2 separate regions of the Homo sapiens genome follow, and region 2 is linked to region 1. The links come from fine-mapping of genetic effects on gene expression. Tissue or cell type: whole blood. Region 1 holds a variant in brackets; the other region holds the start of a gene. All regions are shown on one strand. Distances are between the middles of the regions.

The links. PIP is the estimated chance that this variant, and not a neighbour inherited with it, causes the effect.
Region 2: ZNF620 starts here. The variant in region 1 is the best candidate, but not a certain one, in a credible set for the expression of ZNF620 in whole blood (TOPMed, PIP 0.51).

What each region holds. Positions count from the first base shown.
Region 1 is chr3:40,480,810-40,486,188 of GRCh38, forward strand. It overlaps ZNF619 (zinc finger protein 619), which reads left to right. Exons shown (of 5, transcript NM_001145093.4): 3 at 1,054-1,207; 4 at 1,779-1,895. Among named protein-coding and RNA genes, the nearest start is that of ZNF619, 6.4 kb to the left of the region's middle. The variant C/T (reference allele first, on the strand shown) is at 3,219.
Region 2 is chr3:40,503,393-40,508,771 of GRCh38, forward strand. It overlaps ZNF620 (zinc finger protein 620), which reads left to right and starts at 2,647. Exons shown (of 5, transcript NM_175888.4): 1 at 2,647-2,746; 2 at 2,912-2,984. The coding sequence starts at 2,961.

The DNA of each region.
Region 1 (5,379 bases):
AGTACTTCTATGTTAGATTTCTTCACTCAGAAGAGACTTAAGTACAAAGAGAAGGTTGTTGACATGATGAATTGAGAAAGACTACAGTGTGAGTCAGAGATAGATGTTTTAATGGGACTAATTTATATAAAAGTGGTCAGTTCATTTTGAACTTTTTGCTTCCTTATACAACCTTGTAATAAATACTCAAAGAGGACTCCTTTTAGTCTATTTCAAAGTGCTTAATATTGCTCATTCCCATCATCTGAAAATGGAAATAATAATTCTTATTTCACAGATGTGCTATAATGATTGAGCAAATTGATTTAAAAGTAACTGACACAGGACAAAGCTTTAAACAACCTGTGATGGTGTCCTTCTTCCCTGAGAAGCTGGAGGTGGTTTTAGTGGGAAGCAGAAAGAGAGAGACACATAATGAAGAGGACAGCATTGGCAGGTCAGACAGAGCTTAGGTGATCAGTGGGCAGATTTCTGCAGAAGGATGGGAGATTGCCATCCTGTCCTGGAGTGAAGTGTGTTAGGAGACAAAGAAGTAACACTGCACATCACCTTCAAGGGAGAACTATTAATAGCTTCTGATAAGGCAAGATGATAGAAAGGGGAGAAATATCCAGGATGAAAGGAACTTTATCCTCATGAAATCACTCCTCTGTCTGTAGCAGAAGATGTAGAGGAGGAAGACCAGAAAGAAGCTGGGTGGAGGGCCCTGATACGTGCTTCAGGATGGATGGAGGCAGGGTGAAAGACGGTTACCTGCTGTGGTCGATTTAGAAAGCATGCCAGAAAAATATACCTGGCCTGTGGAACCAGACATGGGTTGACATGATCACCAGGCAGAGAACAACAGGTGCTGGGCTGTGTACTTAGGATGATAATATTAGGGCCCCAGAGGTATGCACATGGAAAGTTGGAATGCTGGCTCGGGGCTGCCCCTGCTGGGGTCCTGTGTGGCTCTCCTTGCCAGTACAAACCTTCCATGGGGCTCAGTGCCATGGATTCCAGTAAATTTATCCCTTTCCTGGAATTCAGGCCTCTCCCTCTGTTCTTGTGCAGGGCTTGGGCAGGAACCTGTTGTTTCAGGAGCCAGTAACCTTTGAGGATGTGGCTGTGTACTTCACCCAGAATGAATGGGCCAGCCTGCACCCTACGCAGAGGGCCCTATACAGGGAGGTGATGCTGGAGAATTATGCAAATGTGACTTCCTTGTGTAAGTCCTCCTTCCTCTCTGAAACTCAGCTTCTGCCCTTGGGAGCTCCTAGATTCCTCCTTAGCAGAACTAGGATCTCTTTAATACCATCAGAATTGATGCCCTATGGGCTGAGCTCCCTAATCCCCAGTGCCAGGGGTAGCTGGATGGAGAAAGAGCTCGGTTCACTTTGGTGTTTAACAGGACTTTTCTCTTCCCTGGTTCCTAATGGAGACCCAACTGCAGGGGGCTTTCCTCTGGATACAGAGAGAACTGAGAAGGTTCCTGGTGCACTGTCTTCATTCCTTCCATCTTCCAGTTCCCTGGAGCTGATCTTGGCCCTATTGCCTATGTGTGAGTCCCCTAGGGCCCTCGTGTACACACCCCCCAGTGACTCTGGGAGCATTCTGTCCTCTTAGAGGCCAGAGTAAGCTTCAAGCCCTTCCTTAGATTCTGCAGATTCACTCCTCCCTGACTTCACTTAGTCTCCTGGGCCATCCTCTTCTATTTTCATCTGGCAAAGCAGAGTGTAGTCTGAGGGAGGTCAGTGTTGATTCTCCTCAGCTTCATGTTCCTTTTCTTTCTCCTGTAGCAGCATTTCCATTCCCCAAACCAGATCTGATATTCCAGCTGGAGCAAGGAGAAGCAGCATGGGGCCCAGATCCCTGGACACTTGCTGGGGGAGAGGCCCTGAGAGGCATGTGCACAGGTGAGCAGGAGAGCCTACCATCCTCCTTTCCAGCTTTGCCTCCTCCTTTCTTTTAACAATTTAGCATGAAAAAGGTTTTTCCTTGTCATATGATGGTTGTGGGGATTAAAATAGTCACTCTTATTCAAAGAAGTGTTGCTTACCAGAACTTCATCCCCGAACTAGAAAAGACGAGTCCCGCCATTTTATTTCTGCCATTTTTCTTTGTAAAGCTAAAGGATTTCAGGCTGGATGTGGTGGCTTACACCTATATCCGAGCACTTTGGGAGGCCAAGGTGGGAGGGTGCTTGAGGCCAAGAGTTCAAGACCAGCCCGAACAACATAGCAAGACCCTGTCACTACAATAAATAAATAAATTAGCTGGGCATGGTGGCATGTGCCTATAGTGCCAGCTACTCAGGAGGCTGAGGCTGGAGGATCCCTTGAGCCAGGAGTTTGAGGTTGCAGTAAGCTAGGATCACACCATTCCACTCCAGCCTGGGTGACAGAGTGAGACCCTATCTCTAAAAAACAAAAGATTTCAAACAGGCTTCTGTTGGTTCGTCAGCTCAGGAATATAAACACAATATAGTAAGAACTTGGTTTTGGTTTTTTTTTTTTTTTTGAGATGGAGTCTCGCTTTGTTGCCTAGGCTGGAGTGCAGTGGCGCAGTTGTGGTTCACCACAACCTCCGCCTCCTGGGTTCAAGTGTTTCTCCTCCCTCAGCCTTCTGAGTAGCTGGGACTACATGCGCGTGCCACCATGACTGGCTAATTTTTGTATTTTTAGTAGAGATGGGGTTTCACTGTGCTGGCCAGGCTGGTCTCGAACTCCTGCCCTCTTGGTCCGCCCCACCCTCGGCCTCCCAAAGTGCTGGGATTACAGGTGTGAGGCACCATGCCTGGCCAAGCACTTGGTTTTTAAAAAATAGATTTATTTATTTATTTGTTTGTTTATTTTTTGAGACAGAGTTTCACTTTTGTTGCCCAGGCTGGAGTGCAATGGCGTGATCTTCACTCACCGCAACCTCTGCCTTCCAGGTACAAGCGATTCTCCTGCCTCAACCTCCCAAGTAGCTGGGATTATAGGCATGTGTCACCACACCCAGCTAACTTTGTATTTTTAGTAGAGATGGGGTTTCGCCATGTTGGTCAGGCTGGTCTCGAACTCCCAACCTCAGTTGATCTGCCCACCTCAGCCTCCCAAAGTGCTGGGATTATAGGTGTGAGCTACTGCACTTGGCCTATTTATTTATTTTTTGAGTCAGAGTCTTGCTCTGTCACTCAGGCTAGAGTGCAGTGGCACTATTTCGGCTCACTGCAACCTCTGCCTCCCAGGTTCAAG[C/T]GATTCTCCTGCCTCAGCCTCCCAAGTAGCTGGGATTACAGGCGCCCGCCACCACACCCGGCTAATTTTTGTAGTTTTAGTAGAGACAGGGTTTCACCATGTTGCCCAGGTTCGTCTTGAACTTCTTACCTCAAGTGATTCTCCTGCCTCAGCCTCCCCAAGTGCTGGGATTACAGGCATGAGCCACCGCGCCCAGCTAGAACTTGTTTTTATAAGAACATTTTGTGTGTGTGTGTGTATAAAACTATATATGTAAATGGAATTTTTCTAAGTTCATAAACACTGAATTTTACATTAGCTTTTGAAAGAAAGCTTGTTTATGTATTGGGAATGAATGGTTTTCTTTTTTGAAAGATACTGAATTGAGTTAAATGTAAAGACCAATCAGAGATTTGGTATACAGCTTTCCTTATTCTATGGGCTCTGTTATCATATTCTGTCAATCTTTTATGCTATTCAGAGCCTCTGTAAGGCAAATGCTCCTTTCTAATTTCCCCACTTTGCCTTAATCAATACCTTAAATTGATTTCAGCATTTCAGATCATGTAGGGGCTTTCCCAGTATCCTTCCTGCAGTTGTTAGTGTTTCCCCTTGCCACAGGTGTACATTTTCTATTTAGCCTGCCAGATGAATCACATGAACACCTGAAGTGTGTCTAGTGCAGCTGAGGAACTGAGTTTTTAATTTTATTCCATTTTAATTAATTTACATTTAAATAGCCACATGTGGCTAGTGGCCACCTTTTGGGAAAGTGCAGCCTTAAACAATGAAAACAGCAGCCTCAATCTGTTTTTTGTAGTTTATAGATTAGTAAATTTCAAACTCTCGTATGTATCAGAATTACTTGCAGAGCTTGTTAAAACACAGATTGCCAGGTGCCACCTCCAGAGATTCGAATTCAGAAGACTGGTGTGGGGCTGAGAATGTGCATTTCTTTTTCTTTTTTTTCAAGATAGGGTCTTGTTATTTTGCCTAGGCCAGTCTCAAATTCCTGGGCTCAAGTGATTCTTTCACCTCTGCCTCCTAATTAGATGGGACTACTGGCACACACCACCAAACCCAGCCCCATTAATATGCATATCTAACAAGTTCCCAGATGATACTGGTCCAGGGACCACCATTTGAGACCACTGTTCTTGACAATCTAGAACCATATTCTTTAAACTCTGGGTTGCAACTCATCAATGAGTTGTTACCAGCATTTAAAAATTAGACTACATTGTATTAGGTGTAGATAAAGACTAAAGTAGTATAAAGTCTATTGTGAATGCATCATTTTTTTTTTTTTTTTGGAAACAGAGTCTTGGTCTATCCCCCAGGCTGGAGCGCAGTGGCGCAATGTTGGCTCACTGCAATCTCTGCCTCCTAGGTTCAACCAATTCTCATGCCTCAGCCTCATGAGTAGCTGGGATTACAGGTGCCCGCCACCACATCCGGCTAATTTTTTGTATTTTTAGTAGAGATGGGGTTTTGCCATGTTGGCCAGGCTGATCTCGAACTCCTGAAATCAGGTGATCCACCTGCCTCGGCCTCCCAAAGTGCTGGGATTACAGGCATGAGCCACTGTGCCCGGCATGAATACATCACTCTTAATAAGGACATTGTTTTGTTTCGGTTTCAGCTGTGTGTGTGTGTGTGTGTGTGTGCACATGTCTGTATTGTTTTAGGATCCAAAATGTGAGTCATGGTCAACAAGCCTCAAAAAACACTAAGATGAAAGTTTCATTTGTCAGATCTTTGGTGCTTGACAGGCAAAAAAGGTTTCTATGTTGTGGTGCTACCAGTGAAAGCATGATCCCCATACCCCCGCTCCAATTGCCATCTCCATTATGGGCAGGTTCTTGGCTGGGCCTTTTTTCCTTTCAAAGGTCAGTCTCCCAAAGGACAGCACTTGGGTTTTAAAATTGTGGTCTTCTCATGAACCCTTTATAAGCAGCAGTGTTACAAACTGCTTTCTGTCCAGCCAGGCTTGTGATAGAGAACTAGAGAGCATTTCTTTAAAAATTACAGAATATTTTAAAGTATTTTGACAGGTTTTATGCCTTGATTGGACTTTGAGATCCACTGTTGTAGACAGTACCTCCCAGCCCTCTGGATACTATGTGGTGCTAGAGCTGCCTACCCATCTTTCTCTTCTCTGGTTTAGAGATTGCTTTTCTCA
Region 2 (5,379 bases), 23 kb after region 1:
CATACAATAAGCCATGCATAAAGTGTATGATTTGATAAGTTTTGCCATATGTATATGTCTCTCAAAAAATAACACAATCAAGATAACAAACATAATCATACCCCAAAAAGTTTCCTTATGCCCTTTTATAATCTCTCCATTCCAGCCTGCTCCTCTCCTGCCTCCAGCCCCAAGAAACCACCAATCTGTTTTCTTTTACTATAGTTTTCCTTTTCTAGAATTTTATATAAATGCTATCACACAGTATGTACTCTTTTTAAAGTTATTATTTTTTTTGGTGTGATGTCTTTCACAACACAGAATTATTTTGAGATTCACCCATGTTGTTGCATATATATCAGTAGTTCATTCCTTGTTATTACTGAGTAGTATTCCACTGTATGGATATGCCACAACTTAACTCAAATGATGGCCATTTGAATTGTTTCCAGTTTTTGGCTATTATAAATTAAGCTGTTATGAAAATTTGTATGCAAGTCTTTGTAATGTAAGGACATATGTTTTCATTTCTCTTGGGTAAATAACAAGAGTGAAATGGCTAGATAATAAGGTAGGTGTATATTTAATTTTTAAAGAATCTGCAAAGTTTTTCCAAAGAGACTGTGCCATTGTACATTTCCATCAGTATTGTATGGGTTCCACTTCTGATACATCTTTGCCTACACTTGATGTTGTCTCTACTTTTAGCTTTTCTAGTAAGTGTGTAATACTGTTTCACTGCGGTTTTAATTTGCATTTCTCTAATGACTAACAATGTTGAGCATCTTTTCAAATATTTAATTGCTTTCCATATATCTTCTTTGGTGAAGTATCTGTTCAAATCTTTTGCCTATTTTTAAAAATTGGTTTATTTTCTTATGAGTGAGTTTTGAGAGTCCTTTATATATTTTGGAAACAAGTCTTTTATCAAATATTTTTGGTATTTTCTCCCAGTCTGTGGCTTGTCTTTTCATTCTCTAAAAGTATCTTCTGAAAAGCAGAAGATTTAACTTTGATTAAGTCCAATTTATCATGTTTTTTTCCACTGGCTAATACTGTTTAGAATTTGTGGTGTATATGTATGTACGTTTATGTGCACCCACTCATGGTAAATGTTCATTTTAATAGGTTTAGCGAAGGGACAGTATGCACATGTATGTCCTTGTCATGCCATTGTTTCTGGAAATCTAATTATTTAAAACAAGTGCTGTGCATAAACTTTAAAGTGAAAATACTATAGATTTTATAAAATGAACTGTTTCTGTGACAGTTAAAATCTCTGTGCTAGGTGGCCCCACAATGGCTCCCAATGGTTCTCATATCCTGGCATTCAAACCTTGTGTATCTCTTCCCACACTGAATCATGACTAATCTGAGGAGAATGTATTGAGGAAATCATGATGCATGATTTCCAAAACTAGGTCATAAAAGCTTTGGCCTTGGCCTCTTGGATTGCTCACTTTGGGAGAAAGCTACATGCCATGTTGTGAAAACCCTCACATGGGAAGGAACTGACGCTTCCTGCCAACAACCAGCACCCACTTGACAGCCATGTGAGTAAACCACCTTGGAGGTGGATCCTCCAAACTCAGTCAAGCTTCAGATGACTTCAGCCCCACATGACACCTGACTGCAACCTCAGCAGAGACCCTCAGCCAGTACCACCCAGCCAAGCTGCTCTTGAATTCTGGGTCCACAGAAACTGTCAAAAGATAACAATGTTTATTGTTTTTAGCCACAAAGCATTAGAGTAGTTTATTATCCAGCAGTAGATACATAATATACTCTCCATGGCAGGACTTGTTTTGAAAGTGGTGGATAAATCTAATTCCTGTGGAAGGAATAACTAAAATCTGTTTCCAGGCTGGGCCGGGACACACATCCCAGTACAGGGCAGGAAAGGGCTCTAAGCCAAATGTTAATAGCTCTTTCGCTAAACTTCGAAAATTGTCCTTAAAAAAATCTATTTCCCTAAAGCACGCCACATATTGGAGTCCCAGCAGCACCTATTTTGTGTCTTCAAAAAACACAATTGGAAAACAAAACAATACAAACTCACGAGTACATACTATGTGCCAGGCACAACTGTAAATAATTTACCTATCAATTAACTAATTTAATGAATTAACCCTGAACAGCCTCAAGAGGTTGGTACCACCATCATAATACCCATTTAATAGACAAGGAAACCGGGGCAAAGAAACTTGCTGCAGGTCACACAACTAGCAAGTGGTGCAGCTGGGTTTCTGGACCTACGTAGTCCATACACATTCGGCCTTCTGAGTAATGGGTTCGCCTTTCCCCACACCCACTTTTCCCACTGCAGCGCACCCACACAATCCAGACAGTTTTGGCGCATGTGAAGGGCGCGATGGTCCCTTCATTATCTGGAAGGACACCCAGAGTGGCAAATGCCAGATAACCACGAATAATACCCAGGATAGTAACCATTCTGTGGCCTGAGCTGGCCAGACGTCATGCCCCGAAGGAGCTACCAGGTGTGGGCGCTGCAGGACCCCTGCCTGGGGCCGCCCGCTCGGGCCCGTGTTGTCTCAGGCAGTAGGGACACTGGCGCTGACGGCGGGGGTAGGAAACCACAGAGACTGGCAACTTCCCAGGTTCCTAGAGAGGAGGGGCATGGAAAACGCACTTCCGGCGGAGGGTCTCAAGCTTTCCCCGGTGTCGGCGGCAGGTGGAATTTCCACGCTTTATCTGCGCCTGCGCCGCGCGGGATTCGCGGTCCGAGCTGAAGAGGTTCGCGGTCCGGGTAACTGATTGGTTTTCCTGGGGCTTGTTCTGCCTGGTTTTGCAACCCCTTTGCTTTTTGGGGTGAGGAGTTGGCGGAAAGGAGAGGGGCCCAAGTAGCACAGAGGGCATTTGCGGGGTGCGAGGCAGCATCAATCTCACCGGTGCTTCTTTATTTTCTCTTCAGTTTCACTTCTCCGAACCCTGAGGCAGTGTGTGAAGCTGGGACGCCAGCCATGTTCCAGACCGCTTGGCGCCAGGTGAGTGAGCATCCTCTCCCTCCCTCCCACCCTTTAGATGTCAAGAGAGAGCAGGTGTCACCTCTGCATTCAGATCTTGAGTTGTGTAGGCCAGTGGCTTCCATTGTGCATCTGTCACTATGAGAGGGATGGAGAGGTGAGAATGCCCAAATTAAGACTAGAAAACTAGTGAGTGTGGGGGGATTGGTTGGGATTTGGCATTTGAAGCCAGCTTAAAAATAAAAATTATGAAATGTGGAAATCTGCATTATTACATCCAATAAAGACCCCTTTCACCCTAGTCCGCAGGCTTGGAGAAGTACTTACTTCTTCAGTATAGCAATTCTAGTAACTGTTTTGTAGATTCCATTGTATTTTCTACATAGGTCATCTATGAGTAAAGATAGTTTTACTCCTTTCTTTCCAGTCTGGATGCCTTTTATTTTATTTTGTCTTGCCTTACTGCACTGGCTAGAAGCATTATTTCAATATTGAACAGAAGTGGTGAGAGCAGATATCTTTGTCTTATTTATGCTTTTAAAGTGAAAGCATTCAATCTTTCACACTGAAGACTGATGTTCACTGTAGGTTTCTTGCTTTTTTGTTTTGTTTTGTTTTGTAAATGTCCTTTATCAGGCATTCTCTTCTAGTACTACTTTGGTGAGAGTTTTTATAGGAATGGATGTTGGATTTTGACAATTGCTTTTTCTGTGTCTATTTAGATGACCATATGGTTTTTTTTTTTTTTTTTTTTTGAGATGGAGTCTTGCTCTATCGACAGGCTGGAGTGCAGTGGCGCGATCCTGGTTCACTGCACCCTCCACCTCTGGGGTTCAAGCGATTCTCCTGCCTCAGCCTCCCGAGTAGCTGGGACTACAAGCACGCGCCACCACACCCAGCTAATTTTTGTATTTTTAGTAGAGACCAGGTTTCACCATGTTGGCCAGGATGGTCTCGATCCCTTGACCTCGTGATTCCCCCACCTTGGCTTCCCAAAGTGCTGGGATTACAGGCGTGAGCCACCGTGCCCAGCCTCTCTTTGTTAATGTGGTGAATTACATGATTTTTCTTTCAAATATTAAACCAACTCTGCGGTGGGATAAAACCGACTTCGTCATGGTGTATTATTATTTTATTAGTACTATATATTGAATTTAATTTGTTAAAATTTTATTTAGAATTTCTGTATCTATGTTTATGAGGTATTGATTTGCAGTTTTCTTTTCTTGTGATGTCTTTGTTCCATAGAATGAGAAATATTCCCTCCTCTTTAATATTTTGGAAGAATTTATGTAGAGTTGACTGCATTTCTTCCTTAAATGTTTGGTAGAATTCAACAGTGAAGCTATCTAGGCATGGGGTTTTCTTTCTGATAAGGTTTTTAAGTACAGTTTTGAGTCCTTTGGTAGATACAGGGGCTACTCTGGTTATCTCTTTTTATTTATTTATTTTTATTTTTTGACAACGGTTTTCTCTATGTTGCCCAGGCTGACCTCAAATTGGGCTCAAGCAATCCTCCCCGCTCAGCCTCCCAGGTACCTGGGACTACAGGCATGCATCACTACGCCCAGCTTAAATGAGTTTTGGTAACTTGTGCCTTTCAAGGAACTTATCCATTTTATCTAAGTTGTAGAAATTATTCACATAAAGTTGTTCATAATATGTGCTTATCTTTTATTACCTGCAGTGATGTCACTTCTTTTATTACTAATATTAATGATTTGTGTATTCTCTCTTTTTTTCTGGTCACTGGCTAGAGGTTTATGAATTTTATTAATTTTTCTTTAAGAACTAGCTTCTGGTTTCATTACTTTTCTGTTTTATGTCATTAGTTTTCACTTTGATCTTTAATGTCTTTTTTATATTTATTTTGTGTTAAATTTGCTATTCTTTTTTTAGTTTTAAGGGGGAAGCTGAAGTCACAGATTTGAGATCTTTCTTTTTTTTTTGTTTTGTAAAATAGGCATTTAGTGCTATACATTTCCTCCCAAGTACCGCTTTAGCATTATCCCGCAAATTCTAGTACATGGTGTTTTCATTTTCATTCAGTTCAAAATACTTTGTACATTCTCTTATGGAAGTGTGTTACTGACTTTACAAATATTTGGGGATTTTCCAGGAGTCTTTCTGTGATATCAAATTTAATTGCATTACAGTCAGAAAACATACTTTGTATGACTTGAATCATTTTGATTTTATTGAGCTTTCTTTTATGGCCCAGAATATGGACTGTCTACCTATCTACATTGTCTTATATGAATTTAGCCACTGCAGCTTTTTTTTTTTTCTTTTTTCCTTAGAGACAATCTTACTCTGTCTCCCAGGCTGAGTGCAGTGGTGCAATCACAGCTCACTGCAGCCTCCACCTCCCAGGCCTAAGTGATCCTCCCAAGGAGTTGAGACTAAGTTGAGACTA